7 separate regions of the Homo sapiens genome follow, and regions 1, 2, 3, 4, 6 and 7 are each linked to region 5. The links come from fine-mapping of genetic effects on gene expression. A gene starts in region 5. Each other region holds a variant in brackets. All regions are shown on one strand. Distances are from middle to middle.

Region 1 (4,066 bases), 72 kb after region 5:
GGTGTTACTCAAACCCTAAGATCCCTTGAGTCTTATCTGGACTTGTTGCTTTAGGAGATGAGCCCCTTGGACACTAAAGTGCATTCATTCCACAGTTCTGTGTTTAGCACCAAACAAGGGAAAATGTGTTCCATTGCTTTTCTTCCACCAGCTAAGCAGGCCCTAGGTGAGAGTTTTATTCCTACTACCGGAGGTATATATCTCCTGCTGCCTTGGTAGAATGGAAGGAAGGAACCAGAGGTCTCATACCTTCTGTGAATGACACCTGAGGCAAATCCCTAGCCAAGGTTAGGGCCCCACACATGGACTCCCTGTATTTCCCTTAGGAAAGTGGTGCTTACCTGTTATTGTTACTTATTGTCTTCCCTGCCCAGTTGAAAGCTCACAGCAAAAATGCAAAATCCGTACCTATTTAGCTTACGATTGTGCCATCAGGGTCTAGCATAGCACCTGGCACTTGGTGGATGCTTTATGATTATTGCCCCAGAATGAATGAATTAACCTCAGATCTGTGAGCCTTCCTCTGCAAAATGGGAATGATAACATCTATCTGCCCTATTTGGGGATGAAGGAGATAGCATGTATGGAAGAGTCGTGGGATACTCCATAAAAGAGAAGAGATAGTTCATGTGGGTTACTGGTAGTATTACCTTGTAGGCTTTAGCTGTATTGCATTTAGCTCTTCCTAAATTTTCCTTTGACAAGGAATACATTTGAGTTATTTTCGGTAACATTAACTGACAGTATCCTGCCTAGAATGGGAGACCCCTAACATTTAAAGAAATCTCATGTGCATTCCTTTCTCCCGCATTGTAGATTAGGGAGGGGCCCAGACAGGTTGATTTACCTGCCTGGCATCAATGCAGGGAATTTGGCTAAGCCAGAGCTAGGTCACGGGACCCCTCCTTCTGTCCCTCTCAGCTCAGTGCTTCAAATCTTCATTTCTGTTGGAGAAGCTGTAGAGTATTTAATTAGCTACAGTCTGAAATGTGATATATGTCAGCGCTCATTACTGCAGTGGGGCTGGTAGGTATTATTCTCCAGTGCTACACCCCATTGTAGTTCAGTGACCCCAATTAACTCCATCACTCAAGACAGCCCAGCCAGGCAGGCATCACCAAGGGCCACTTGAAGCAGGTACTCAGATTCCCTAGAGTCCATCAGAAACGCTCTTCTCCACCTCAGTCTGACCTGCTGTCCTTCCCCTGAGCCTCCCTGTTGATGCTGAACAGAAGCTTTAAGAGGTTGAGAAGCATTTACCAGGTAAGAGCCACTAGGTCATTGTGCTCAGCACTAAGCTGGGCTCCATTTTATCTCCCTGGAGGCTGCACCCTCAAGACCCTCAAGTTGTCAGTGCAATGGGCAAGAGAAGGGTGCTTTAGGATCCTATCAGAATCAGGAATAAATCCCTCTTCTGAACTAGACCCCATTTTTATTCTTTTAATGTTAACATCAGGAAAGGCAAAAGAAGACTGGTGAATTGGTCCAGATTAAAGAAAATGAAAGACACATGGTAACTAGATATAATGCAGAATCCCTGATTGGATCTTGGTTTGA[GA/G]AAAAAAAAGCTATAAAAGCAATTTAGAGACAGACAATAACAAGTGTTGGCAAGGACGTGGAGAAATTGGAACCCTCAGACATTGCTGGTGGTTCTATAAGTGATGTAGCCACTTTGGAAAACAGTCTGGCAATTCCTTAAAAGGTTAAACACACAGTGACCATATGACCCAGCAGTCCCACTCCTAGGTATATACCCAAGAGAAATGGAAACAGATGGCCACAGAAAAACTTGTACATGAGTGTTTATAGCAGCATTATTTATAGTAGACAAAAGGTGGGAACAACTGAAATGTCTACTTATGAGTGGATTTATAAAATATGTGTATATATACCGACTGTGGAATATTATTCAGCTGTAAAAAGGAATGAAGTACTGATACACACTACAACATGGATGAACCTTGAAAACGTTATACTACGTGAAAGAAGCCAGACACAAAGACCACGTATTGCATGATTCCATTTATACGGAATATCCAGAATAGGCAAATCCCTGGAGATGGAAAGTAGATTTATGGTTTCTAAGGGCTCAGGGGAGGGAGAAGGGGAGTGACTGATTGTCTTAGTCTATTCAGACTGCTATATCAAAAGACCACAAACTAGATAGCTTATAAACAACAGAAATTTATTTCTCACATTCCTGGAAGCTGGGAAGTCCAGGAGCAAGGCAGTGGCAGATTCAGTGTCTGATGAGGGCCCGCTTTCTAGTTCGTAGACGGTGCCTTCTTATTTGTGCCCTTACATAGTAGAAAGGATGAGCAATCTCTCTAGGGTCTTATTTCTAAGGGCACTAATCCAAGCCCTCATGACCCAATCACTCCCAAAGGCCCTACCTCCTAATACCATTACCTTTGGATTTGAATTTCAACATATGAATTCCAGAGGGGACACAAACATTCACACCATAGCACTCATAATGGGTACAGAGTTTCTTTTTAGGATGATGAAAATAATCTGAAATTAGATAGCGTTGATGTTTATACAACTTTATAAGAATACTAAAAAACACTGAATTGTATGCTTTAAAAGGGTAAATTTTGTGTTATGTGATTTATATGTCACTTTTAAAAAGGCTGGGTGTGATGGCTTATACCTGTAATCCCAGTACTTTGAGAGGCTGAGGCGGGCAGATCACTTGAGGCCAGGAGTTGGAGACCAGCCTGGCCAATGTGGCAAAACGCCATCTCTACTAAATATACAAAAATTAGCCAGACGCAGTGGTGCATGCCTGTAATCCCAGCTACTTGGAAGGTGGAGGCATGAGAATCCCTTGAACCTGGGAGGCGGAGGTTGCAGTGAGCTGAGATCATGCCACTGCACTCCAGCCTGGGAGACAGAGCAAGACTCTGTCTCCAAAAAAAAAAAAAAAAAGTGATTTGGGGGACAATGGGAAACCTGAATATGGAGTATGTATTAGATAATAATTTATATCAATGTGATAATAGAATTGTGGTTATATAGGAGAATGTTCCTTTGCTCGACAGATGCATGCTGAAGTACTCAGTGACCAAGCATTATGATATCTGCAGTTTACTTCCATGTGACTCAGAAAAAAAATGTATATAATGTATATATAGGCAGACAGCAAATGCGGTAAAATATTAACAATCGGTAAATCTTGGTGAGTAAGAAGAGTAAATCTTTTTACTCTTTTTAAAACTTTTCTATTGAAATTGTTCAAAATTGTAGGCTAACACATAGTATTTTTACAAGACAATGAGGTGGAATTTTTAGAATACCAAGAGACAGAGATAAGTCAAAGGGCTTTTGGCTGTCCACAGTGACCCTTTGGTCTCTGTCCAAGACAAGGATAAATGAACACTTGTTTCCTCTTTTCTTGGATGAAATCAATTGCATTTCTAAGCCGTACAGACCCCCACTTAGCAGTTCTCAGAGAGTGCCTGAAATCTACAGCCCAATACTGTGGGCTCTTCATGCCAACTGTCAAAAGAGTGGGCTTTCTTATGACTTCCAGTGGGCCAGAAATTATAGCCAATGGGAACACCAGTCAGAGCTCCCTTCCTGACCTCATTCTAGGATCATTCCAGGGGCAGTAGTTAGGCTGACTTTCTTTACCAGTCTCTAAGGGAAACACTAAAATAGCCAGCGAGCGTAATTTCTGGAGAGACAGATTTCTTGATGAGTATTCTAAACCTTACATGTTCTCCCCTTCTTGCAGTATTTATAGTTTGGGAATGGATGTAGGGAGCCTTGTGGTAACATATCAAGACTTTAGTTCCCTGTTCCCCTTCCCCCAGACAATCAGCAGGGTGTCATGCAGTCTTGAAGGAAAATTTGTGCACATCCCTTCCAGAACAAAGGGTGAAACCCTACTTGAGAACAGTAGACCTGGAAGGGACCTCAGGAAATAAGGGACCTCAGAATGTCTTCAATTTCCTGATGCTGACAAGGCCTTTCACAAGAGAAGCCCACTGATTTCACACCTCATGGCTACCCAGGAAATACACTCAGGAGCATTTGCAAAAGTCTTTAAACCAACTACTGC
Region 2 (4,066 bases), 56 kb after region 5:
GCTGGGACTGGTGAGATTGGGGGAGTTCAGTGCTTATCCGTGTAATAAGTTAGTTAAGAGTGTTTTCTCTATGCTGGAGGACTGCCCAGGATGGAGTGATAATCCGGCAGACAGCAAGGGTGGCAGATGTGAAAACACGTGAGCCCAGTAAAGGGGAACAGGTGCTGTGAGAGAAGCAAAGGCAGCAGCCAGAGAGGGCAAAAAGCAGGGGCAGCCACTTCAGCCTGGAACCAGGTCTCAAGGAGGTATCACTGCTGGGGTATATCTTCAAAGATGAATGTGTGTTTTCTAGGCAAATGGAGGTTGGGACTTTCCCAGCAGAGAGAACACAGCACAGTATGAAAAGTTCACCATTTTTGGTGGTCTCAAAACTCCTTAAGTGTGGAACATGGAGTTGAGGGGAGACCTAGATGTAAGATAGAGATTGGGGGTGCTGATCACCAGGGGCCTGTGGGTTCTTCCTTGGAGCTGAAGTCCATGGGGTGCCACTGCAGGGATTCTGGAAGCTCATGCAGCAAAATGAGCTGCACAGCTTTGCAATTTAGAAAGCTCACTGGGCTGTCAGCCTGGAAAGCAGGCTGGAATGGACACTGGAGTCCAGGAGAGCTGTTGAAGACTTGTGTGGTGATGCAAGGGGGTGGAGATGACAACTAGAGCCACCATGGTGGCAGTGAGGATGGGCATGCAAAGACAAGGATGAGAGGACAGAAGAGTCCAAGAGGTGGAGTCAGCACGACTTGGTCACCAGTCGGATACGGGGAGGTGAGGGACAGGTGATGTTGAGGCTAGCAATGACAGCTGTTGTGCATTGAGCACTTAGCTATGTGCCCTGCATGGTGCTAAGCACCTGACATGGGTGATCTCATTTTATCCTCACCAGTGGGTACTACCCCTGTAAGCTTGCTCTACCCATGTCACAGCTGAGAAAACTAGCTCAGAAAGGTTCAAACTTGTCCTCAGGTCACAGTGAATGAGTCATATAGCTGGGACTCCGAGCTCTGGCTTTTTTTTTTTAATTATATAGTCGTCCTTTAATAAATTCTACCTTTTGAACACTTTTATCACTTTGTGATCTTCATATATTAATACATTAATATATGTAAGCCACAATCAGAGGGGAGAATCTAAGCATTTAGTCTACCAGGTAATGATGAAAAGAGGATGTGTATGATTAATTCATTTGAAATATTATGGACGTCAATAAACAATGGAAATGGTAAGCATCTGGGATAAAAGTGGGCCTGGCCAGGGATGTCTGGTGATATCTTAAGCGCTTTTTTTTTTTTTTTTTACTTTAAGTTTTAGGGTACATGTGCACAACGTGCAGGTTTGTTACATATATATACATGTGCCATGTTGGTGTGCTGCACCCATTAACTCGTCATTTAACATTAGGTATATCTCCTAATGCTATCCCTCCCCACTCCCCCCACCCCACAACAGGCCCCAGAGTGTGATGTTCCCCTTCCTGTGTCCATGTGTTCTCATTGTTCAATTCCCACCTATGAGTGACAACATGCGGTGTTTTTTTTTTTGTCCTTGCGATAGTTTGCTGAGAATGATGGTTTCCAGTTTCATCCGTGTCCCTACAAAGGACATGAATTCATC[A/AT]TTTTTTTTGGCTGCATAGTATTCCATGGTGTATATGTGCCACATTTTCTTAATCCAGTCTATCATTGTTGGACATTTGAGTTGGTTCCAAGTCTTTGCTATTGTGAATAGTGCTGCAATAAACATACGTGTGCATGTGTCTTTATAACAGCATGATTTATAGTCCTTTGGGTATATACCCAGTAATGGGATGGCTGGGTCAAATGGTATTTCCAGTTCTAGATCCCTGAGGAATCGCCACACTGTCTTCCACAATGGTTGAACTAGTTTACAGTCCCACCAACAGTGCAAAAATGTTCCTATTTCTCCACATCCTCTCCAGCACCTGTTGTTTCCTGACTTTTTAATGATTGCCATTCTAACTGGTGTGAGATGTTATCTGATTGTGGTTTTGATTTCCATTTCTCTGATGGCCAGTGATGATGAGCATTTTTTAATGTGCCTTTTGGCTGTATAAATGTCTTCTTTTGAGAAGTGTCTGTTCATATCCTTCGACCACTTTTTGATGGGGTTGTTTGTTTTTTTCTTGTAAATTTATCTGAGTTCATTGTAGATTCTGGATATTAGCCCTTTGTCAGATGAGTAGATTGCAAACATTTTCTCCCATTCTGTAGGTTGCCTGTTCACTCTGATGGTAGTTTCTTTTGCTGTGCAGAAGCTCTTTAGTTTAATTAGATCCCATTTGTCAATTTTGGCTTTTGTTGCCATTGCTTTTGGTGTTTTAGACATGAAGTCCTTGCCCATGCCTACGTCTTGAATGGTATTGCCTAGGTTTTCTTCTAGGGTTTTTATGGTTTTAGGTCTAACATTTAAGTCTTTAATCCATCTTGAATTAATTTTTGTATAAGGTGTAAGGAAGGGATCCAGTTTCAGCTTTCTCCATATGGCTAGCCAGTTTTCCCAGCACCATGTATTAAATAGGGAATGCTTTCCCCATTTCTTGTTTTTGTCAGGTTTGTCAAAGATCAGATAGTTGTAGATATGTGGCATTATTTCTGAGGGCACTGTTCTGTTCCATTGGTCTATATCTCTGTTTTGGTACCAGTATCACGCTGTTTTGGTTACTGTAGCCTTGTAGTATAGTTTGAAGTCAGGTAGCATGATGCCTCCAGCTTTGTTCTTTTGGCTTAGGATTGACTTGGCAATGCGGGCTCTTTTTTGGGTCCATATGAACTTTAAAGTAGTTTTTTCCAATTCTGTGAAGAAAGTCATTGGTAGCTTGATGGGGATGGCATTGAATCTATCAATTACCTTGGGCAGTATGGCCATTTTCATGATAATTGATTCTTCCTACCCGTGAGCATGGAATGTTCTTCTATTTGTTTGTATCCTCTTTTATTTCATTGAGCAGTCGTTTGTAGTTGTCCTTGAAGAGGTCCTTCACATCCTTGTAAGTTGGATTCCTAGGTATTTTATTCTCTTTGAAGCAATTGTGAATGGGAGTTCACTCATGATTTGGCTCTCTGTTTGTCTGTTATTGGTGTATATAAGAATGCTTGTGATTTTTGCACATTGATTTTGTATCCTGAGACTTTGCTGAAGTTGCTTATCAGCTTAAGGAGATTTTGGGCTGAGACGATGGGGTTTTCTAGATATACAATTGTGTCATCTGCAAAAAGGGACAATTTGACTTCCTCTTTTCCTAATTGAATACCTTTATTTCTTTCTCCTGCCTGATTGCCCTGGCCAGAATTTCCAGCACTATGTTGAATAGGAGTGGTGAGAGAGGGCATCCCTGTCTTGTGGCAGTTTTCAAAGGGAATGCTTCCAGTTTTTGCCCATTCAGTATGATATTGGCTGTGGGTTTGTCATAAATAGCTCTTATTATTTTGAGATACGTCCCATCAATACCTAATTTATTGAGAGTTTTTAGCATGAAGGGCTGTTGAATTTTGTCAAAGGCCTTTTCTGCATCTATTGAGATAATCATGTGGTTTTTGTCGTTGATTCTATTTATATGCTGGATTACATTTATTGATTTTCCTATGTTGAACCAGCCTTGCATCCCAGGGATGAAGCCACTTGATCATGGTGGATAAGCTTTTTGATGTGCTGCTGGATTCGGTTTGCCAGTATTTTATTGAGGATTTTTGCATTGATGTTCATCAGGGATATTGGTCTAAAATTCTCTTTTTTTGTTGCGTCTCTGCCAGGCTTTGGTATCAGGATGATGCTGGCCTCATAAAATGAGTTAGGGAGGATTCCCTCTTTTTCTATTGATTGGAATAGTTTCAGAAGGAATGGTAACAGCTCCTCCTTGTACCTCTGGTAGAATTCAGCTGTGAATCCATCTGGTCCTGGACTTTTTTTGGTTGGTAAGCTATTAATTATTGCCTCAATTTCAGAGCCTGTATTGGTCTATTCAGAGATTCAACTTCTTCCTGGTTTAGTCTTGGGAGGGTGTATGTGTTGAGGAATTTATCCATTTCTTCCAGATTTTCTACTTTATTTGCATAGA
Region 3 (4,066 bases), 93 kb after region 5:
ATGCCAGAAACTAGATAATGTATAAAGAAAAGAAGCGTATTTGGTCACAGTTCCTGAGGCTGGGAAGTCCGAGATCAAGGGTAGCATCAGGTGAGGGCTTTCTTGCTGCGATATAAGGTGGTAGAAAGCATCACATGGGTGAGAGAGATGGTTGGGACCAAATTCATCCTTTATAAGGATGCTGCTCTCACAGTAATTAACCCACTCTCTCCATAACAGCATTAATCCATTCGTCAGGGCAGAGCTCTCATGAGCTAATCACATCTTAAAGGTTCCACCTCCCAATACTGTTGCACTGGGGATTCAGTTTCCAACACACAAACTTTGGGGATCATGCTCAAACCATAGCAGGCTACCATGCAGCTCCTCCACTCGCCTCTCATTGACAGAACCCAATCAAGCCACATCTAGCTACAAGGATGTCAGGAAAATATCATCTTTATTCTGAGCAATCATATTCCCAGCTAAAATTCTTATTACTGTGGAAGAAAAGAACAGCTCCTAGGGGATATACAGCAATTTCTGCCACAAGCCTTAGTTAGGAATCCAGAAAGGAAACCATTTGAAAATGAAAGAAGGAAGAAGGTGGAAGAGTTCAAAGCCTGTTGCATCTTTTTAAAAATTATTTTAGGATCAGGTGAGCCAGCTCTCTTTTGAGCTTTGTAGCCCATTAAGTTGACCTGAAGCCATTTAGTCATAGGATAAAGTCAATCCTCAGAACCCTTTTATGGTATTAAATCTTTGGACTATATTAGACATGTCTAATCCTTGAGTGACCTTTCCTTCATCTGGAAAAGATAAAAGATGTCTCCACTCATTCATTCATTATTCATTCATTCAACAGAAATTGATGTCTTCTCATAGAGCTCACAATTTGGGGAGAGATAGACAATATTCAAATGATCATCCAAATGAATGTGAAGTCACAAAGGAGCAGTGAGGATGCTGTAAGGTCCCATATCAGGGGCAGTGATCTAGCCAGAGGGGTTAGGGAAGCTTGCCTGAGGGTTTAGATGATTCCTGTGGGAGCATCTGCATTCATAGCAGTTTGCTGTGGTCTGGGAAGACTGTCCTTTGTGCTCTCTTGTGGTTGCACCTCACACATCCTGCCTGGGACACCATATATCTAAGAAATCGTTATATAAGAACAAGAGAGGCTGGGCATGATGGCTCACGCCTGTAATCTCAGCACTTTGGGAGTCCCAGGTGGGACGATCACCTAAGGCCAGGAGGTTGAGACCAACCTGGGCAACATAATAAGACCTCGTCTGTAAAAAAAAAAAAAAAAAAAAAAGCCAGGTGTGGTGGTGCATGTACCTGTAGTCTTAGTTTCTTGGGAGGCTGAGGCAGGAGGATTGCTTGAGCCCAGGAGGTCAAGGCTGGAGCTGCAGTGAGCTATCATCATGCTACTGCAAGCCAGCCTGGGCAGCAGAGCAAGATCCTATCTCTTAAAAAAAATAAATAAATAAAAACAAGAATACCAGAGTGACAGAGTGAGAGTGAGGTGGGATAGGTAAGGGGCTGGGTGCTGCCCAGGAGATTCAGAGCCTTTTGTGGCCTCCACCCTAAGAGAAACAAAGAAGAAGAGTTCAGAGAGTTCTCAGTTTCCAAGATGGGAGATGGAGGAGGCCAACATCATTGTCCAGGCAGAGACTTTCCTCCTGGGCCAGGAAGGAGTCCAAAGAGGAGGGGACTACCATCAGTCACATGTTGCTTCCCCATGCCCCTACCCCTCTCCCCCTCTTGGGGGACCTTTGCAAGCAGTGAGCAGCCAGCCAGCCCAAAGAGCCAAGATTGTGGAAATCAACCAGTGGGTCATTGTCTACCAGGTGTACTTGGAAATTCACTCTTCCAGCTTAAGGCAGCTGTGGCAGATGGGTCCTGTCCCCTGACCAATGCCAGCTGATGGGTAAGCGCTGCTTGGAGCACAGTGTTGAGAAAGATTCTCAAAGTCTGGGATCCACAAGGAAGGATATTACAATAGGTTGGTGATGTCTGCTTTTA[C/T]CCTGGTGCAACTGAGAGGAAGGAATGGGACATAAATATAAAAATGCTTTGTAAATTATAAAATACTACCAAATAGTAACTAATAATGGTAGCTAGCATTGCTAGTGCTTTCTAGATACCAAACACTGCTAAGAGCTATACTTGCTGCATCTCATTTAATCCTCATAATAACCTTTATGCTAGGTACTATTAATTTCCCCCATTTTACAGTTGGGAAACCAAGGCTTGTGAAAATAGCGTAACTTGCCCAAGATCACAGAGCTAATAAACAGAACTGTGGCACAAGCCTAGGCATTTCTGATGCCAAAGCAGATGGTCTTCTTCACTTTGGTCTGCTGTCTTCAGAATGTAGGGGATTATGATTATAATTATTACTATTATTAGAGCAAGTACTTTATTACTGCGTGGCTCAACCCTACTTACCCAGCTAGGAGATTAATAGGATGTGTTTGCAGTCATTTTTTAGTCTCTCTCTGAAAAGTAGGAACTTGCCTTCTGATGAGCTTTCCAGTTCCTTTTTTTCTTTTTACCCATCCACAGCTGCTGTGCAGAGCAATATTGCAGCCCTTGCTCCTGCCCAGCCCGTCAAGCCTCTAAGAAGAGCACTTTCTAGGGGCTTTCCTGTGATTGATCACACATCAGCTAGACTGAGATTTTCAAAACCTCTTGTGAATTGCCCTCTTGGTACAGAAGTATGATTCATCTCAGCACGTTTTCCATATTTGAGGGCTATGTTCCTGCAGCCTTTCTAGATACTGAGTTTGGGAAGGAATGGGCAGGTACATGTGGTAGGTGCTATTAGCTGTGATGATTACACTCATGTGGTGGTTGGCAGTTTGCAAAACGCTTTCATATCGATTTTCTCTCCAAGCCTCAGTTTTGTCATCTACAAAGTGGATATAATGACGATAATAATATAGTCAAGTCTAATCTCATGAAAGAGTTAGGCTATAATAAACCCACCACTTAAGGTGAAAATAACACAAAATCAGAATCACCCTTGACAATCGCTCATGGAATATGAAGACACACCACCTCTCAAAAGTCCAGTGTGGGCAGTTTTAAATCCAGCTTGAACACCAGTGATAACTGTTTCTTTGGTTGAAGTAATCACAGTGCCTTCTGAGGTAATGAAAATACTTATCTTCCTAGAGTAGGCTCCCCCAGCACAGAGCGCTCACACTTCCAGGGGCCAGAGAGAACTGGGGCCTCCAGGGACACTGTGAGGGCAAAGGCACACTCTGCATGAGCACGGGAGGCTCACCACCACCCTTGTAGGATTTCTCTCTTCTTTCTTGACTATGTGTCACTGAATTCTTGAAGGTGAAATAGACATAAAATCCTATCTCATTAGGTCTGATCTCCTGACTTGCTTTCTATGGACAGTATTGAAACTTAAAAGTAACATGTGATGACACAGACACCAGGCTAGGTGAGGGGAGAGCTGGGCTCAGGTCCCAGGTGGGTTTCACCTGCATCTGTGGGACTATTGATATCCAGCTCTTACAGATGAACTTCTCACCTGACTGTCCAAGTTCTCAGGCTCTATTTCTTGACTCAAACCCACAGGACCCTAGTAACCCTATTTTTAAAAAAAATCTGTGTGTGCCCACCCCTACTTCTGCCTTCCCAGCATAAGCTAACATCATCTCTGCCTGCACCACTGTGATAGCCTCCTTCCCAGCCTCCACCCCTCCTCTTGGCCTCCTAATCCCTTTTCCACTTGGCTACAAGAGAGCTTTCCAAATGCAACCTGATCTTATCACCTCCTTATAGAAAACACTTGTATTTCTAAATGCTCCTGGAGGAAAGACAGAATCCTCACCCCTGTCCACCTCTCATTCCTACCAGACTTTCCCTGCTTCTCTGTGCACCACACACACTGCTCTTCCAGGCCCTCCTATGATTCATGTTTGCTCAGCCACAGAATCTTTGCATATCTTTACTTTTCCCTCTGTCTGGAATGCTGTGTACTCCTCTTTCTACTGAGTTAACCTGTAATCCAATTTTCTCAAGAAAACCTTGCAGGCTGGATCAGATCCCCCCAGTCTGATCTGAAAGA
Region 4 (4,066 bases), 210 kb after region 5:
TGTTCTGCCCCGTGAGGGCCCTGCGGGAGCCCTGCCCGCGTCTCTGGCCTCCCCTCCCATCCCTCTTCCCCTTTCTCCCTCTGCTCCTGCCCTGGCTTTCTTTTTGATTATGCCAAGCTTGGCCCTGCCCTGGTGCCTTTGCACTTGCTCTTCTCCCACCCGTTCCCTTGCCTTTACTTTCACCTTCTTGGTTCCACCTCAAACATCCCTTCCGAAGTGAGGCTTTCCCTGACTGGGGAGCATAAAGTAGCATCTCTCACATCCCATACACCCCTACAACGAATCTATGCAATGGCCCTGCTCTGCCATCGCCACCTGAAACCATCTCCCATGTTAGTTACCTATGCCAGGAAAAATTACCCCCAGAATCCATCTTAACACAATACACAGTTATGATGGCAGCGCTTCCCTAGGCCAGGGATTTGGGAGTGGCTTGGTTTGATAGCTCCACCTTGGGTCTCGCATAGGAGAATAGTCAGGCCATGAGCCAGGGCCGCAGTCATCTGCAGGCTTGACTGTGACCACGACCTCTGCTTCTTGGTGGCTCACTGACCTGGCTGGCAAATTAGTGCTGTGGGCAGGAGGCCTCAGCTCTCACCGCATGGACCTCTCCACAGCATGGCTGGGGTGTCCTCAAACATGGCAGCTGGCTCCTCCAAAGCCAGCGGTCCCACAGAGAAAGGTGGAAGCCACGGCATCTTTATGACCGTCATTTCTGCAGTATCCTGTGGGTTACACAGGTCAGTCCTCATGTGACTCACTGGGAGGCATCTACACAGGGGCACAAATACGAGGAGGCAGGGATTGTGAGGCCACTTCGGAGGCTGGGGCCTCGGCTGACTGATTCACTGCTGTGTCCTGAGTATGCACCAGATCTTGTGCTAAACCCTTTTACACACAATATCTCATCTTCCAGTCCTGCCTCCTCTATTTCTTTACAGGAAACTGAGTCTCAGAGAAGTTAAGTACCTTAATCAAAGTCATAAAGTGGGTAAGTGGCTGAGCCAGGATTCAAACCCAGGCCTGCCAAGGAGGGTCTGTGTAGGCCAAAGTCATCAAGTGGGTAAGTGGCTGAGCCAGGATTCAAACCCAGGCCTCCCAAGGAGGGTCTATGTAGGCTGGGCCCCTCAGTGGGTATGAGTCAGTATTGGCTGTACATGTTCACATTCCCAAGTTGCTATCAGACCAGTGGGCAAACTCAGGAGCTCTCTGTGATGTCAAATACTCCTCCCTGGGAGAGGGAGGCAAAGAGAACCATCAGATCCCACACTGCGGCAAGACCCAGCTGCACAGCCTAGCAAGCCAGACTCAGAGAAGGCAGGGCAGGGAGGCTGACGGAACTGCTCAGGGAGACCCAGCGAGAGGCTCATAGATCCAGGAGGAAAATAAATATGTGACAGTAAATCTACGGAACCTGTGTGCCACCTTGACTACTTATGCTGTGGCTGATGTCACTTTGTGATCACCATGGTCTTTCCCACTGATCCCCCGATGCCACCCTAGAATTCTCAACACAGCACTCCATAGTGGATTAGAGCTCAGATTCTGAAGTCAGCTAAAACAGGGTTTAAATTTTGGCTCCACCACTTACTCTGTGACCTGAGTCACATTTCTTAGCTTCTCTGAGCCTCCATTTCAGCATCTGTAAAATGTTACTACCTACTTTATAGGTTTTCTGATGAGGCTTAAGTGTGGTTGTGCATGTGACCATCTTAGCATAGTGTGTGGCAATGGTAAGCACTCAGTGCTGTCAGCTGTTTTTACCGCTGTTATTATATTACTGTGTTTTCCCATGTCATTAGGTCTGTGATCCAGGCTTCAGCAGACAATCCAGGCTGATGCTTTTGCTGAGTGC[A/G]CTAAGGGATGCTGGCCTGGCGGGATGGTGAACTGGAAGCAGAAACGTCATCCTCTCTCTTCCTTCTTGCCATGCAGGTGTGGATGTGTGGGGGCCGCATGGAGGACATCCCCTGCTCCAGGGTGGGCCATATCTACAGGAAGTATGTGCCCTACAAGGTCCCGGCCGGAGTCAGCCTGGCCCGGGTAAGGTGGTGGCTTTCCTTGGCGGGTAGAAGGGGTTGGCCTAGGACCATCAGCTGCACTGAGGCACCCTGGGGCCCTAGACTGTGTTATGTGATCTCTGGGTTTGAGGATGTGCCTCCCATTCTCCAGGTGAAATCTGATTTAAAAGAACTCCCTTAAATCCCTACTTAACCATTCATTGCTATGTGACCTGGGGAGGGTTGCTTAAGTCCTCTGAACCTGTGTTTCCTCCTTTGTTTAAAGAGAGCTAATTCTTTCCAACTCCCAGCATTGCCAGGAGAATTAAGGAGGTGATACTGTTTCCCAGAGTGTGACAGAGGAGACGATCTTAGGCAGCAAACACAGGAATGTTTTCTTGTTCATGTGTTTAAGTTAATGTGGATTCTAAATTAATGTGTATTCGTGTAGCTAACCTGTAATTTCACAGATATTATTACTTAGCATACAGCTAAAGTAGGTGCAAAGTTAGACCAGAGGTGATGTAAAAAAACATGTTAGATAAATATTAATACAGGTGGTGTGGTGTGGTGTGTTTGGGAAAGCTTGCGTACTAAATTTCTGGAGGGGAAGTGGGCTTCATAAATGTCAGTGTCTTTCTCTTCTCCTCACCCCCTGTCTACTCTTACTGCCAAAACCTCTGCATGTCAAACTGTTTCATTGCCTTAAAATGGTTTCTATCAATCATTGCTTCAATTAAATTGGCCACTGGCTGCAAATGGAAATCTGTCAGCCAGAGTTTGTTTTTGGTTTGGATATTAAATGTATTCGGAAAAAAATAAATAAATCCAGGTGACCACAAAAGAAAAATGAAGAGGAGGGAGGGTCCCCAGAGGATAGAAAGAGCCTTGCGGGGAAGCTGGAAAGGACCCCCGCACAGCTTTCCCTCCGGGGAGCCTGTGAGCCCCGCCCCGGCCAGGAGACCCCGGTGCTGGCCGGGTTGGCATTAGACCGCACTGCCTCCTGTCCAGGGCGCTGCCTCCTCCTCCACTTGACAACCTTGACGTGTAGAATTGCAGCCCCCGGGACCTAGAAGAGCGTTGTCCTGTGACTTACAAGGAAAGCCGAGAGGCTCAAAGAGGCCGCGCGTCTCCCTGAGAGCCATCAGTGGGTGGGAGCTGAGCTCCGGGAAGTGTCAGGGGCCGCGTGGAGGGAAAGGAGAGCCGGCAGTGCCCTCCAGTGGTAGCAGAGCCTAACGACGCCCTCACCAGCCATCCGCGCTGCCCACAGCCCCATCCGACACGGGCGGGGGGTAGGTTCTAGGTTCAGTCCCTTGAAGCAGGAATCGCGTTCTTCTGAAAGGCCATTTGGCGATCCCTGAGGAGGGAGCCAGGCAGGAAAAGCGCACGCTCTCTCGGTACGCCCAAGACTGAGACTCTTCCGGCTACAAGGGACCATGGGGACACTCCAACTCCAGACCAGGAGCAACCCTAAAGCATTCTTTTCCTCTGCAGAGCTGTTGTTGATAAGGCTCACCTAAAAATAAAAATAGCCGGGCGCAGTGGTGTGTGCCTGTAGTCCCAACTACTCAGGAAGCTGAGGTGGGAAGATCACTTGGGCCAGGGAGGTCGAGGCTGCAGTGAGCTGTGTGTGCCACTGCACTCCAGCCTGGGTGACAAAACGAGACCATGTCTCAAAGAAAGTTTGTTGTTGTTGTTGTTGCTGTTGTTTTTTTTTTTAAAAGGCCCACCTGATAAAGAGACATTACCGCCTCCTGCTTGTTATAGAACCATTATTATAGATTAATTCAGTGGATAAGAGCTAACTGTAGTAATACTTATAAAAATTCCCTTCGAGCCAGGCATGCAAAGCATTTTACTTATCTCACTTAATTCTCACTTGTTTTTAACCCCATTTTAGGGATGGGGAACATGAAACGTGATGTTGGCGATGGAAACATTAAGTAACTAGTGCCAGAATTCAAACCTGTGTAGGTCTGACAGGTACCTGGCACATAGCAATTGTTCCTTAAACAGTGACTGCTGTTATTAGTGTTAGCATCAATATTAACAATAAAGACTGGAACATG
Region 5 (4,066 bases):
CCTCACAGGGTAACTGTGAGCATTTAAAGAGGTAATGCATCTCAAGGGCTGCCTGACATAGAGTAAGCACTCAATAAAAGGTAAGCATTATTGTGATGGAAATCTAAAGAAAGAAAACAGTTCCCTGAGGAGGAGTTTTAGAAGGCTTCGTGGAGGAGGTGGCAGTTTAACTAGACACGGAAGGATGAACAAGATTTCCACCGACCTAGAGAAGGGGGTTTTATGGGTAGAAGGAGCTGCGTGGTCAACAGCACAAGAAGGAAAACACAAAGCCTGCAACAGGCTAAGCGAAGCTCAGGGCAGGGCAGGGCAGGGCACGGCAGGAGACAGAACGTTTGATCAGCCCTAGCAGGTCATAGGAGAGGAGCATGATGGACTCTAGAGCCGAGGTGATGGAAGCCTTGAAGGTTTTGCTGCAGAAATCAAGAACTGAGCTGTGATGTCAGAAAACTGAATCCCCATCGCTCAGCCTGGAGCTGGAAGAACTTGGAGGCAAGAGTTGCCAGAACGCTGGTCAAGGACTAGTGGCAGCTAGGCACGAAGGTCAGCGGCTGAGCTAGAGAAGCAGAGAATCAAGAGGACGAATGTGGGGGTGGCAGAGAGTAAGGTAGCCAAGGGGGTGCTCCGTTCCACCGCATCAGGGAGGAGGCAGCTAAGTGACCAGCGTCGAGCGCCCCGAGGAGGAGCCGCTGGCTGGCATCACCGTCGGAGTCCGGCTCCACGGCCCTCCGCATCGCCCAGAAGCCCGACTCCTCTGTCAAAGCCCTCGCCACAGTTACAGACACATTGCCTGGTCTAGTGAAATTACGTGTTTCATGTTTCAGCTCCCAGACGTCAGGGCTCAGGTCTGTTTTCATTTCATCCCAGAGCCTGGCACAGTGTTTGGCACATAGTGGCGCTCGCCAACGGTTTGCTGAGAGCTTTCCGGGAAGGGCTCAGTGCGCTTAGGATCCAAAAGCACGCGTGAGAATGCAGGGCATTCTAACTCCAAGGGGGTTGGACTTGCGTGAGGAAAGGTGCTGCAGAGAGGCTACCGTCACTTACCCACCCGCCGGTTTGCAGGATCTACAGACGGGCGGCGGCCGGGCACAGCTCCCTACAGTTTGCAGAGGGCGTTCACACCTAACGCCAGGGCCCCCCTAGAGGAAGAAAACCAGGGCCCGCCCGCGGAACAGTGAGCGTGCAGCACGGCTGTGGCCCCGTTTCATGGCCGGGAACACCGAGTCGCCGGGGTCAAAGTAGGTCCGCAGGTCCTGGGGGCCGAGCCTAGGTGGGCTGGAAGTGACAGCCCCGGGGGCTCCAGGCTCAGAACGCCCGGCGGGGCCCCAGCACTATTTGCATATCCCCAGGGAGGCAGCAAAGGTTCGGCTGCAGTCCCGGGCGGAGGTTGCCGGGCGGGGCGGCAGGGTACCCGGGCGAGCGGACATGCACCCCACCCAGCGGTGCCCAGCCCGCACCAGTTAGCGCCCAACTCGCCAACTCCGGGACTTTCGCAAAGCTCCAGAGGGCGGGGGAGCCGCCGAGGAGTGGGACGGACCATCGCGGCTCGAGAGGGGGGAAGCGCTCCGGCCCGGCATCCTGCAGCGCCCGGGCGGGCCGAGACGCTCCGTGAGAGGGCCGAGCCTGCAGCGCAGAGACTCGGCGGTCGACGCGGGGGCAGGCGGCGCGGGGCGGGCGGCTCGGCGGGGCCCGGGGGCGGTGGCGGCGGCGACGACCCCCTCGTGGCGGCGGCGTGGTGGCGGCGCCCAGCTCCCCGGCCGGCGAGCGGCGGAAGTGCCGCGGAGTTGGAGCGGGGCCGGCGCCGCAGCCGCTTCTGCTGGCTGAGCTGCTGCCGCCGCCGGGCGGACGGGCGGACGCGCGGAGCTGGGGGCGGCGCGGCGGGGCCGGCGGGGCGCGGCGGGGCTGACCGGCCCCGATGAGGCGGAAGGAGAAGCGGCTCCTGCAGGCGGTGGCGCTGGTGCTGGCGGCCCTGGTCCTCCTGCCCAACGTGGGGCTTTGGGCGCTGTACCGCGAGCGGCAGCCCGACGGCACCCCTGGGGGATCGGGGGCGGCGGTGGCGCCGGCGGCGGGACAGGTGAGTCCCCCCGTTGCTACAGGCCGGGAACACCCCCTTCCCGAATTCACTTTTAGCCTGTGGTTCCTTCCTCCACCTTCTGCTGTCTGCCTCCTCAGAGTCAGCTCCGAGACTCTTCAGCTCTTCCCATTTTCCGGATGGGAAAATTAAGTCCTGTCGGGACTTGTCCAGGGTCCCACGCCAGTCAGAGACTGAGTCCGAACTAGCACTCAGGACGCTATTTCTCACCACATGTTACCACCTTCCTTTCTGTCCCCGTCTGGTATTCCTTGACGTCTTCCAGCGGATCTCTTTTGAAGGATCCTATCTGCATCCCTGTATCCCAGGATGACTCCTGCCTTGTGCCAATAGGAATGAAGATTCTGGTTCTTCTATTTGGTGTCCAGGTCCTCTCTGCTTCCCTCCTCCCACCCCCCCCCCCCCACAACCCCTACCTGCTGATCCCAGTGTTCTTTGCTCAGGTCAGCCCTTTTCCTGATTTCTCATCTGCCCAACGAGACACCCGGGCCTTCCTCCTCTCCCCATTTATTCAACACCCCCGCCCCAACTCTAGCCTTTTCCTTTCTCAGATCCTGTGGATTCCTTGCAGAATGTAAAGATCATGCTCCCTTTAAAGCTTCAAGCCCCTGGGGGTGGAGAAGGGGGTAAGCTCCTGGTCCTTGAGGGACCTGCTGCCTTTGACCTTATGGGAGTCCAGAGGTGGGGCTCTGGTGGGGGGACCCCCAAAATGTCCCAGAGGCTATTGGTGCCCAGTGTCCTGAGGATGGAACACCAGAAGCCTTCCCTATCTCTTCTGAACTTGTCTAGTCTGGTTAGTTGTAGTGTTTATTGCAGCCAAAACTGGGATCGGAATGGTTTCTGCCTCCTTTGAACTTACCCACGTATGTTTGTGTGTATGTGTGCGTGCACGCATTTAGACTAGCAGCTCCCTCATAGCAGAAGCTCTGTCACATCACTCCCACCCTCCCAGGAGGTGCTAGTGAGTGTATTGCTTAGACTGTTTCATATAGTGGAACATTTCAGGCTTTCTTACGGGATTTCTCTGGTCCCATGAGAAGTGGATAATTTGTGTATCAGGGTCAGACTTGACTGACTGTTGGCTGGCCTCGACGAAAGAGGCTGGCTTTTCTGAGATTGATGGTTTTCCTTATTCTTCCCAGTATCAGGCTGCTGTCTAGGCAGTCTGGCATCTGGAGCACAGAGGGCTCTTTGCTACAGAGCTGACCAATTTGAGCTCCGCCTGTAACTCTGTTAATTGCTGCAAAGCATCCCAGAGGGTCTCATTGATCTTTCTGGTAGAGCTTACTGTTTAGAAACTAAGGTTTCCATCTCTTTCCTAAACCCCTGGTTCAAACCCTGACAGCTAGCTTAGACCTCTCTCCCTGAAATTCTGTATCTGTATGGATTTTCCGTTCATGAAATCTCTTTCCTCTGTTCCTATTCAGTACCAGCATCAGAGTCAGGAGTTCCAGGGTTCTGACCTCAGCTCTACCACTAACTTACTGTGTGTGTCCTTGATCACCTTTCATCTCCTTTTCTGAGCCTTACTTTCTTGGTCTGTAAACCATGATTATTGGTCCAGTTCTAACATTCTGTGATACTATCAGTTAATCAATGAGGAATACAACGGTCCCTTCTTTTTTTCTGTCTTGAGTCCAGAGTTCCTTGTAGCATCCCTAGCTGTGGAGGCTCCATACTGGACACAGCTCCAGGTCAAGGGGGAGTGTCCTACCCTAGTGCAAACTCTCCTTTAGAATAGCTGTAGCCCATTCTAAAATAGTGCTTGACATTCTGCCTCTGCTTGGAGAAAGACCTCGTATTTCATTTGCAATAGATGCCAAAGACATCCTGATTTTCATTTCTGTAGACCCAGATGGGTAGAGAAGGTCAAGGTTAACTGCCAGTTTGGCCTGAGCTTTCAAAGTAAATTACTCACTTGTGCAAGAGGGTATTGATAGAGTAAGGCAGACTTTTGGGCAGGGAGAGAGAGGG
Region 6 (4,066 bases), 210 kb after region 5:
TGCAGGAGCAAGGGAGTGATAGAAAGCCATGTGAGGGGACGAGAGGGAGGACACCCTCCCCTGCAGAAGTCAGGAAGGTCTTTGAGCTTGTTCTGAGAGGAAAACCCATTCTCTGGGTAGAGGAATGAAGACTCAGAGGAGACTGGGGTTCGCTTTGTGTGATACTGATATGGTTACTGAAAGGCTAGCCCAGTCCCAGGCTACGTGAACAGACTTAAAAAAAAAAAAAAAAAAACTCTGATTTTTTTTTTCCCATAAAACTCAGTGTTATCAAGAAGACTAAGTGAAACAGGACGTGTGAAAAGAAGGCAGGACACACCCAGAAGCTGAGCAAGGGTGATATTGCAACCTGGCCCAGAGCGGTTAGGTGACTGGGCAGGGTCCCTCCACCGGAAGGTGGCAGTGCCAAGGCTAAATCCCAGATGCCCTGGCTCCAAGCCCAGTGCTCATCTCATTCCGCCTGGTGGTAGGAGTAGAGAAAAGGTGTATCCAGTCTAAAGAGAGGCCCGTGTTCCAGGAAGGGCCCAGAGGTCAGGACCAGCCCTGAGAGGGGTTAAGTTGCCACACAGGAGGGAGAAATGATTGCCAAAGGCCAGCCCAAGCACCAGAAGGATATCCAGGGCCACCATCAGGCAACTATATGGCAATACATTTCCCCATCCTTTTCCCTGCCCCTACCAGCACCCTCTGCCTCGGACAGCTGCAGCATGGCTGCCAGGAACCTGGTCCTCATTTCTTCCTTTCCCTGTGTTATCCAAGGATGATGGAAATATGCTCTGATACATGCAGCATTTTCGTCCTGGGGCCACATATGCCCAGCCTTTGCAAGAGCCGTCTGCTAGAAACAGGGAAGGCATTCTGCTCATGACTCTCGGCAAGTCATTTGAAATTCCATGAGTGTCCCTGCCTGTGGAGCCTGCTTCTCCCACCACTCCTCCAAGGAGACGGCTCAAAGGCCCGAGGGTCGCCTGTGTGTATGTTACTCCCTAACCAGCACACACCTACCTCATGGTGCCTTGGCTCTTTCATCCCTAAAAGTGGTAATAAAATAACTTCTTCAAAAGTTTGTTGTAAGAACTAAATGGGATGATATGTATATTTGGCCTAGAGCTAACCAAAGAGGAGGCACTCAATAAGTGGCAGCTGTTCTGATCATAACCCTCAGGTAAGGAGGCAGAACAGCACAGTATTACACAGATGGGCTTCAGCATCAAACTGCCTGGGTTCTAGTGCAAATTCAATGAGCTAGCTGCTGTGTGACTTTGGGAAAGTGACTTAACCTCTCCTCTTTATATTATTTAGGGGATGGAATAATCTTTACTTCATAGTGCAGTCGTGAGCATGATATGAGCCAAAATATATTAAAAGCTTAGCTCAGTGCCTGGAACATAATAAATGTTCGCTAAATGATAGCTGTTAATGTCAGCATGGTTGTGGTTATTGTGATCGGGCTGTGGTTGCAGGAAGACAAGAGTGGAAAGAGGCTGGCAAGACAGGTCAAAAGGCCTTGGCTCTAGGCCCTGTTCTGGAACAAACTCTCTGTGAGATCTTGGACTCATCTGCCCTTTCTCCTGAACTTTTATTTCGCCATCTACAGAGGGGCACCAATCATCCCAAATTCACAGGGCTGTTAGGAAATATAGTGTGAACTGGCAGGCACAGTCACCTGAGACGCTGTCACCATTCCAGTACGCGGTGGCTCCCAAGGTGTGAACCCTGGACGAGCAGCATTAGCATCACCGGGGAACTTATTAGAAATGCAAATTACCAGGCTCCACCCCAGGCTGCTGAGTCAGAGGCTGCCGTGGAGCCCAGCCAGCTGTGTTTCAACATGCCCTGCAGGTGCTTCCGATGAGGCCCAAGGTTGAAAATCGCAGCTGTAATGAATAGGTGGGAGGTTGTGCAGAGAGGATGCTCAGGCGTGGGTGTGGAAGGACAGAGTAAATGGGCAGGTTGGTTGGCAGGTTGGCCAACAAGTTCCAATACCTTCACCCGGCTTTCAAGGCTCTGTATCTTTGGTCCACCCTTGGCAGTTC[G/A]TTTCTGTTCCATTTTTTCCAGCATGGTTTTTAGAACAAACCTGACCAATGACCAGATCATGTATGAATGAATGAATGAATGAATGAATGAATTAGGTAATTAATGTTTGTTTGGGGTTTCAACAGTCACAGAAAGAAAAATTCACAAGCCCCCAGGGCAGAAAAGTGAATGCATTGCGGCCAGTTGTCAGCAGCATCCACATAGGGAGTCCAGCGGGTATGGAGAGGGTAGGAGGTGATAGGTGGGAGCAGGTGGCAGAGGGCCTGATTGCAAGCCAAGGGTGACCCCTTTGTTCTGCAGACAATACAAGTGCTGTTAGGGATCTTTGAGGAAGACCATGATAGGGTGGGTCCAGACCTTAGGAAAACACAGTCTCTGTGGAACTCTCAGATCTGCCTAGTTCTGACCCAACCCCAGGTTCCATTTTGGGTTCTGCCATTTATGCACTGGGCAACCCTGGGGAAAGTGTTAATTAAACCTCGGTTTCCTCATGTGTAAAGGGTGTGATCATGCCTCCCTCGCTGGGTTGCTGTGAGATTGCTGTATTTCCAAATCTGAGTCAAAACCTAATGTAAAGTAACCATCTCGCCCTTGTTGGGGAAGTAACTAACTATAAACACTTAAGGATATTGTTGAGATAGTCCTATGTTTAATTTATTAATTTAGATGCACATATGCTTAAAACTGTATCATATAAAAATACTAGGCTGGGCGCGGTGGCTCACACCTGTAATTCCAGCATTTGGGGAGGCCAAGGAGGGTGGATCACTAGAGGTCAGGAGTTCGAGACCAGCCTGACCAACATGGGGAAAACCTGTCTCTACTAAAAATACAAAAATCAGCTGGGCATGGTGGTGGGCACCTGTAATCCCAGCTACTCGGGAGGCTGAGGCAGGAGAATCACTTGAACCTGGGAGCCGGAGGTTGCAGTGAACCGAGATTGTGCCATTGTACTCCATCCTGGGCAACAGAGCAAGACTCCGTCTCAAAAAAAAAAAAAATACAGCTTAAATTTAGAAGTAAATTTAAAACTAAAGTTGTTCTTTTCTACTTTTTTTTTTTTTTTTACCAGCTGCATCCAGTAAACATCCAAAACCAGCATGACTGAGGTTGTCCTTTCATGGTGGTGATACTTCTTGAAACAATATCTTGTTGAAAACAAACTAATACATTCAAAATAATATGAGTTTCTTTTCAGCCGGGAATTGTGTAGCATTCATGCAACGCCCTCCACCAGTAGCGATGGGCCACGTGCCCACAGGACACCATATGGATAGCTCACGGTGTCCTCTGAGCTTCTACATTACCTCATTTTAGCCTCACCACAACCCTAAGGAGGTAGGCACAGTAATTTTTCCCATTTTGCAGAGGAGGAAACTGAGGCTTTCAGACTTATAAAACTTGCTTAACAGCCTGTGTGGGACCTCAATTCTAATTCCAGAACCAAGCTCCTAACTGCTACCCTATGTGCCTCCTAAGCACACAGTGAATGCTGAATGATTGGTGGCAATTATTAGTATAGTCTTTCCCCCAAATGCAACTGATTAGGGTTTGAACTTCATAGGGGTCCTCAGCTGAGATGCCAACGGCAAAAGCCGTGGCCAGCTGCCAGTCTTTTCCTTATCTCTGGGCAGGTCGGGTGCCGTGCCATTCCTGGCTAGCTTCCAGGCAGCCATTTCCTCAACAGAGAGAAGCTCTGCCCCAGCCCCTGCCCTCTCGGGTTCCCCTCCATGGACAATCCCTTCCACTGCGCCCTTCTTTCTGGGTCCCATTGTGTTTTCCCAATGCACATCACCACTCGTTTCTTTCCCCCTCAGTTTAGGAGATAAGAGCGGGTAATTGTCTTTTATAGGCACTGTAATGAAGCCTGTCATCACACAAAAGAAGTTTGCTAATAAAATAAATCAAAGCAGCAATGAAAATGAATGGGGAACAGGCTTTCACAATTAGATTTGTACTTGTCTAGAGGCATGGTGCTTCTATGAGAAGACTGCCACAGGGGCAGTGAAAGGGTCCTGGAAACAAGCTA
Region 7 (4,066 bases), 130 kb after region 5:
GCTCGATCCGGGTCCCCGACTGATGCCAGTAGGAATCTCTCTCTCCAACTCTTGGCTCTGTTTTCCACTCTGTTAACTTCATTCTGAGGCAAGGAACAGTCCACATGGTTGCCCCAGGCAGACCAGATATATATCCTCCCATGTTCAATCTCAACAGAAAAGAACTTGCGTCTTTCCCAGTTGTCTCAGCAAAGACTTTCTCTGATTTGCAGGTGCCTGTCCTAGAACTACTTATAACGGGGCTGGAGAGGTGACATGCTATGACTGGCTAAGCCAGGCTCCTTTGGCCACCCTCAAGGCAAGGAATGAGTCAGCTCCACCCCAGCCCTATACAGGTGAGGTGTAGGAGATTCCCCAAGGAAAATCGGGTTGCTGCTACCAAGAGAAAGAGAAGAAATGCAGACTTGCCCATTCCCTCATTGACATAAAAGGAAACTGAGGTCCAGCTGGGACCTCAGTTGCATGGATTGTTGACTTGGATTGTTGCATGGCAGAGCAAAGGCTAGAAGCCACGATTTCAAACACCTACTTAGTTTCCTCAATATTTGCTTTTTAGCTAGTCATTCTTTTTTGCTGATACAATTAATAGGATTGATAAATTATCCCTATAAAATACTAATATATATATATATATAAAAGACAGATGGGTTTAAATCTGGACTTCATTCCTTGCCAGCTATTTGACCATAGGCAAGTTTCTTCTCTCTATCTTGTTTCTTCCTCTTTGTAATGAGAATTATATTCCCTACATTGTAAGATTATTTTGACAATTAAATGACTTAATGCATATTAAGTGCCTACAGCACTGTCTGGCATATTGGAAATCCTCAACAGATGTTTTCTATTATTGTCATTGTCACTTTCTGCCTTATTTTTTAACTGCTTATCAGCATTCCATAGTTTGAATTTTTCATCTTTTATTTAATCTTCCCCTATTGGTGGACATTCACTGTTTCTGCTCTTTTCACTATTTCAATGTGTGTCAATCAACATCCCCAATTGTGTGTCTTTGTCCCTGTGCTGTACACCTCTCACTAAGCTTTGCGCATTCAGGGTTGAAACCTAATCAGACCATAAACCAAAGGATAGTGAAAGTGCTTTTGCAACAGAGAAAATGTTTCCACCAACTCTCAGTTGCAAAATTCTAAACTCCACAGAAGTCTCTTCTTTCACAGTACCTTTGGGGGTCAGAAGTATTGATTCAAGAGGGCCTCAACATTGAGGTTGTGTGCTGGAAGTTTCAGACTACCATTGCTTTGACCCTCAGCTGGACCATCACTCTGCCTGGTCCTGACCCCAGAGAGACTCTTCCAAGCACCTCAGGAGGCCACGCTGCATGTGGAAGCCCACAAAGACCTGGATGCCATCTAGGGTGAGGGAAACAGAGGGAGGACACAGAAGAGTCTGTGTGCTTTATGCCATGTTGTAAAAACAAATGCACATGTGCAGAGGAGAACACAGAGAGGACACATCCCAAATGTTTAGCAGAGATCAGCCCCACATGTTAGCGGCAGGACAGTATGTTTGCTATTG[C/T]CAGTTTTCCTTTGAGCCCCTCTGTCTTCCAGACTTTTGTGCTTAGCAATGATCACTTTTGAAATTTTTAAAAAATATTATTTTAAATAAATACTACCTGGATTTGAGGCCTGAATCCAACTCATTTACCCCTCTGAGCTCCATTTTCCTCATCTGGAAAATGGGGTTAACACTCTCTGCTTCATCTCCCTCATTTGAATATGGTACAGATTAGAGGAGAGAGAGGGAAAAGTGCTCTCTAAACTGTCAGGCGTAAGCCATGAGGCAGCAGAGGTTATATTGCCTGGCCCACAGTGGTAGCCATGCCCAGCCTCTTTGCAATGGGAGCAGTGCCCTAGGCCCCTTTCCCTGTGGCTCCTTTCTGAGGACATGTGGACAAAAGGATGCTTCTTGTTTATCATACACAAAAGAACAGGGCACACTCCACCATCCAGTGTTGAGATCCTAAAACACAACATGTAGACAAGTCTTAAGTGGGGCTGCTAAGATGGGAGTGTCACTGGTGTGAGTGGCGGCTTTCTATTTTCTTCTGTGTCGTCCCCAGGTCCCCTTTGTCTGCTGTGATCTGCAGCCTAATAAGAGGCGGAGAAAAGGGGCTTTGCTTGGGCTCTCAACTGGAAGGTGGCTTGTGGGCAGGTCTATAGAGCCAGGTACCCTGCTGGATACTGGAGAGATTAATTTGAGCAGGTCACACAATTTTTTATTTAAACAAAGAACCTCTACTAAGCTGGGACCAAACTAATGACTAGTGCTCATGGCAAAAGTCGAATTTAAGTTTTGTGTTTATTTAGGAAATGAATGGATGGATAGAGGAGGGAGAGAAAGAGAGATCAAAAAAAATTTAAAAGACAGGCACACGTTCAGGGCTGTGATCCAAGCTGAGCCTTTTATTTGAGTTCTGAATAATCTTTAATTCCATGATTGAATTAAATTAGAAGTGAATTTAGTCTATTGTGGCTTTGTCTACTTCCCTTAATGCATGATGGTGTTTGTGTGTCTAACTGCAGGCTGTGGGGCCCGGCTCTGGGCCTGGAGTGAGTGAGGGCTTTCTGCTGTGTAATAGCTATATTGTATTTCACCCGTGGACCCCAGGCAATTTATTATAGCTAACACCCCACCCCGCCCCCAACCCTGCTTCAATCAAGCAAGCCTCCTGTGAAATTAGATGTTAAGGCAGGAACTTTTGTAGAAAACCAGATATCACCAGTCTTTCTTGGCCGCAAAGGATTCAGCTGAGTTAAGGAAAGGGGATTTTTAAGAAGGGGTGGTTTCATTTATTTGTGAAGGCCAACATAATGAAGTTGGAGCAGATTCCCAGAGAATGCTGGATGAAATGATCAAAAGGATTAGAGAGAAGGGGAAAGGGCAGAGGAAGGCTGTGTGGGGACTGGATAAAAAGAGGCCAGCAAGATGGTAAAGCAAGAGAGGATGTGAAGGAAGTCTGGAAGGTCCCAAAGGGAGAGAGGCTGACTTTTCCATCAGAACTGGACTACTGGAATCAGGGGAGTCCTGTTCACACAGCTGGAATGAGCTCTCTGCCAGATGCAACGGTTAAGTCAGGGCAAGGACATATCTTCCCTCCCACAGTTTCCCTTGGTGCCTCTAGCAGAGGTACAATTTGAAACTAAGAAGTCTCTGGACTCTGACCTGTTTTTTCCCTCAGCATTTCTTTCTAAAAATTATCAGACATACAGAAAAATTGAAAGAATTATACAGCGAACACCCATGTTCCCATCATGTCCATAATTAGCATTGGTTTACTTACTTGATCACATCTCTATCTAACCCTCTCTCCACCCCTCAATCCACTATACGTTTTGATGCATTTCAAAGTAAGTTGCAAAGTGACTCCTGCCCATTTTGACAGTTGAACAGTAGATTGCAATGGCATACAAAGAGACTTTGTTGTTACATGCATTGCCCTGAGATGTCACAAGTTTCTCCTCAAAACTTTTTTTTTTTCTCCTTGAGACACGGTCTCGCTCTGTCACCCAGAGTGCAGTGACACAATCTTGGCTCGCTGCAACCTCGTCTGCCTCCCAGGCTCAAATGATCCTCCCACCTCAGCCTCCCAAGTAGCTACAACTACAGGTGCCCACCACTACACCCGGCTAATTGTTTTTTTGTTAGTTTGTTTTTTTTATTTTTGTAGATGAGGTCTCACTATATTGCTTAGGCTGTCTTGAACTCATGAGCTCAAGTGATCCTCCTGCTTCAGCCTCCCAAAGTGTTGCGATTACAGGTGTGAGCCACTGCACCTGGCCACCCCCAGAACTTGTTACCAGTCTCTGGAGCCCCTTCCCTTGATGCTTTTTACTTCCAGGCTCTCAGATTCCAGCATCGCCAGGGATCTGGGAGCTAACATGAGGGAATGAAACAGCTGAAGCTGCCCTGGTGTGAGGCTGTGGTGAGAGCCGAAGTGTCTGGAGAGCACCTGCCCCCTAGACAGCACCTGCCCCCTAGAGAGGGGCACCCACTGTCACCTCCAGCCCATTGCTGTTGCATGAGACTCTGGGGTCAGTGTTGCCCAAGT

Evidence for each region.
Region 1: its variant is fine-mapped to the expression of GALNT10 in whole blood (INTERVAL, PIP 0.97).
Region 2: its variant is fine-mapped to the expression of GALNT10 in ovary (GTEx, PIP 0.95).
Region 3: its variant is fine-mapped to the expression of GALNT10 in whole blood (TOPMed, PIP above 0.99).
Region 4: its variant is fine-mapped to the expression of GALNT10 in whole blood (TOPMed, PIP above 0.99). The same link has a PIP of 0.9 or more in blood mononuclear cells and spleen.
Region 6: its variant is fine-mapped to the expression of GALNT10 in whole blood (TOPMed, PIP above 0.99).
Region 7: its variant is fine-mapped to the expression of GALNT10 in whole blood (TOPMed, PIP 0.98).

Annotation. Positions count from the first base shown.
Region 1 is chr5:154,261,400-154,265,465 of GRCh38, forward strand. The region is part of intron 1 of GALNT10 (polypeptide N-acetylgalactosaminyltransferase 10); the gene reads left to right. Among named protein-coding and RNA genes, the nearest start is that of GALNT10, 73 kb to the left of the region's middle. The variant GA/G (reference allele first, on the strand shown) is at 1,558.
Region 2 is chr5:154,244,535-154,248,600 of GRCh38, forward strand. The region is part of intron 1 of GALNT10 (polypeptide N-acetylgalactosaminyltransferase 10); the gene reads left to right. Among named protein-coding and RNA genes, the nearest start is that of GALNT10, 56 kb to the left of the region's middle. RefSeq lists a silencer at 109-158. The variant A/AT (reference allele first, on the strand shown) is at 1,609.
Region 3 is chr5:154,282,007-154,286,072 of GRCh38, forward strand. The region is part of intron 1 of GALNT10 (polypeptide N-acetylgalactosaminyltransferase 10); the gene reads left to right. Among named protein-coding and RNA genes, the nearest start is that of MIR1294, 63 kb to the right of the region's middle. RefSeq lists a silencer at 3,683-3,977. The variant C/T (reference allele first, on the strand shown) is at 2,005.
Region 4 is chr5:154,402,172-154,406,237 of GRCh38, forward strand. It overlaps GALNT10 (polypeptide N-acetylgalactosaminyltransferase 10), which reads left to right. Exons shown (of 12, transcript NM_198321.4): 8 at 1,933-2,040. All of the region lies in intron 2 of SAP30L-AS1 (SAP30L and GALNT10 antisense RNA 1), which reads right to left. Among named protein-coding and RNA genes, the nearest start is that of SAP30L-AS1, 42 kb to the right of the region's middle. RefSeq lists a silencer at 3,173-3,222. The variant A/G (reference allele first, on the strand shown) is at 1,856.
Region 5 is chr5:154,188,952-154,193,017 of GRCh38, forward strand. GALNT10 (polypeptide N-acetylgalactosaminyltransferase 10) reads left to right here and starts at 1,782. Exons shown (of 12, transcript NM_198321.4): 1 at 1,782-2,074. The coding sequence starts at 1,916. It overlaps LOC124901118 (a long non-coding RNA gene), which reads right to left and starts at 1,128. Exons shown (of 2, transcript XR_007059010.1): 1 at 1,045-1,128. RefSeq lists an enhancer at 192-1,157 and silencers at 1,378-1,467, 1,558-1,657, 1,668-1,777, 1,868-1,947, 2,018-2,077.
Region 6 is chr5:154,394,103-154,398,168 of GRCh38, forward strand. The region is part of intron 7 of GALNT10 (polypeptide N-acetylgalactosaminyltransferase 10); the gene reads left to right. All of the region lies in intron 2 of SAP30L-AS1 (SAP30L and GALNT10 antisense RNA 1), which reads right to left. Among named protein-coding and RNA genes, the nearest start is that of MIR1294, 49 kb to the left of the region's middle. RefSeq lists an enhancer at 1,605-2,325. The variant G/A (reference allele first, on the strand shown) is at 2,037.
Region 7 is chr5:154,317,827-154,321,892 of GRCh38, forward strand. The region is part of intron 3 of GALNT10 (polypeptide N-acetylgalactosaminyltransferase 10); the gene reads left to right. Among named protein-coding and RNA genes, the nearest start is that of MIR1294, 27 kb to the right of the region's middle. RefSeq lists a silencer at 1,072-1,191. The variant C/T (reference allele first, on the strand shown) is at 1,534.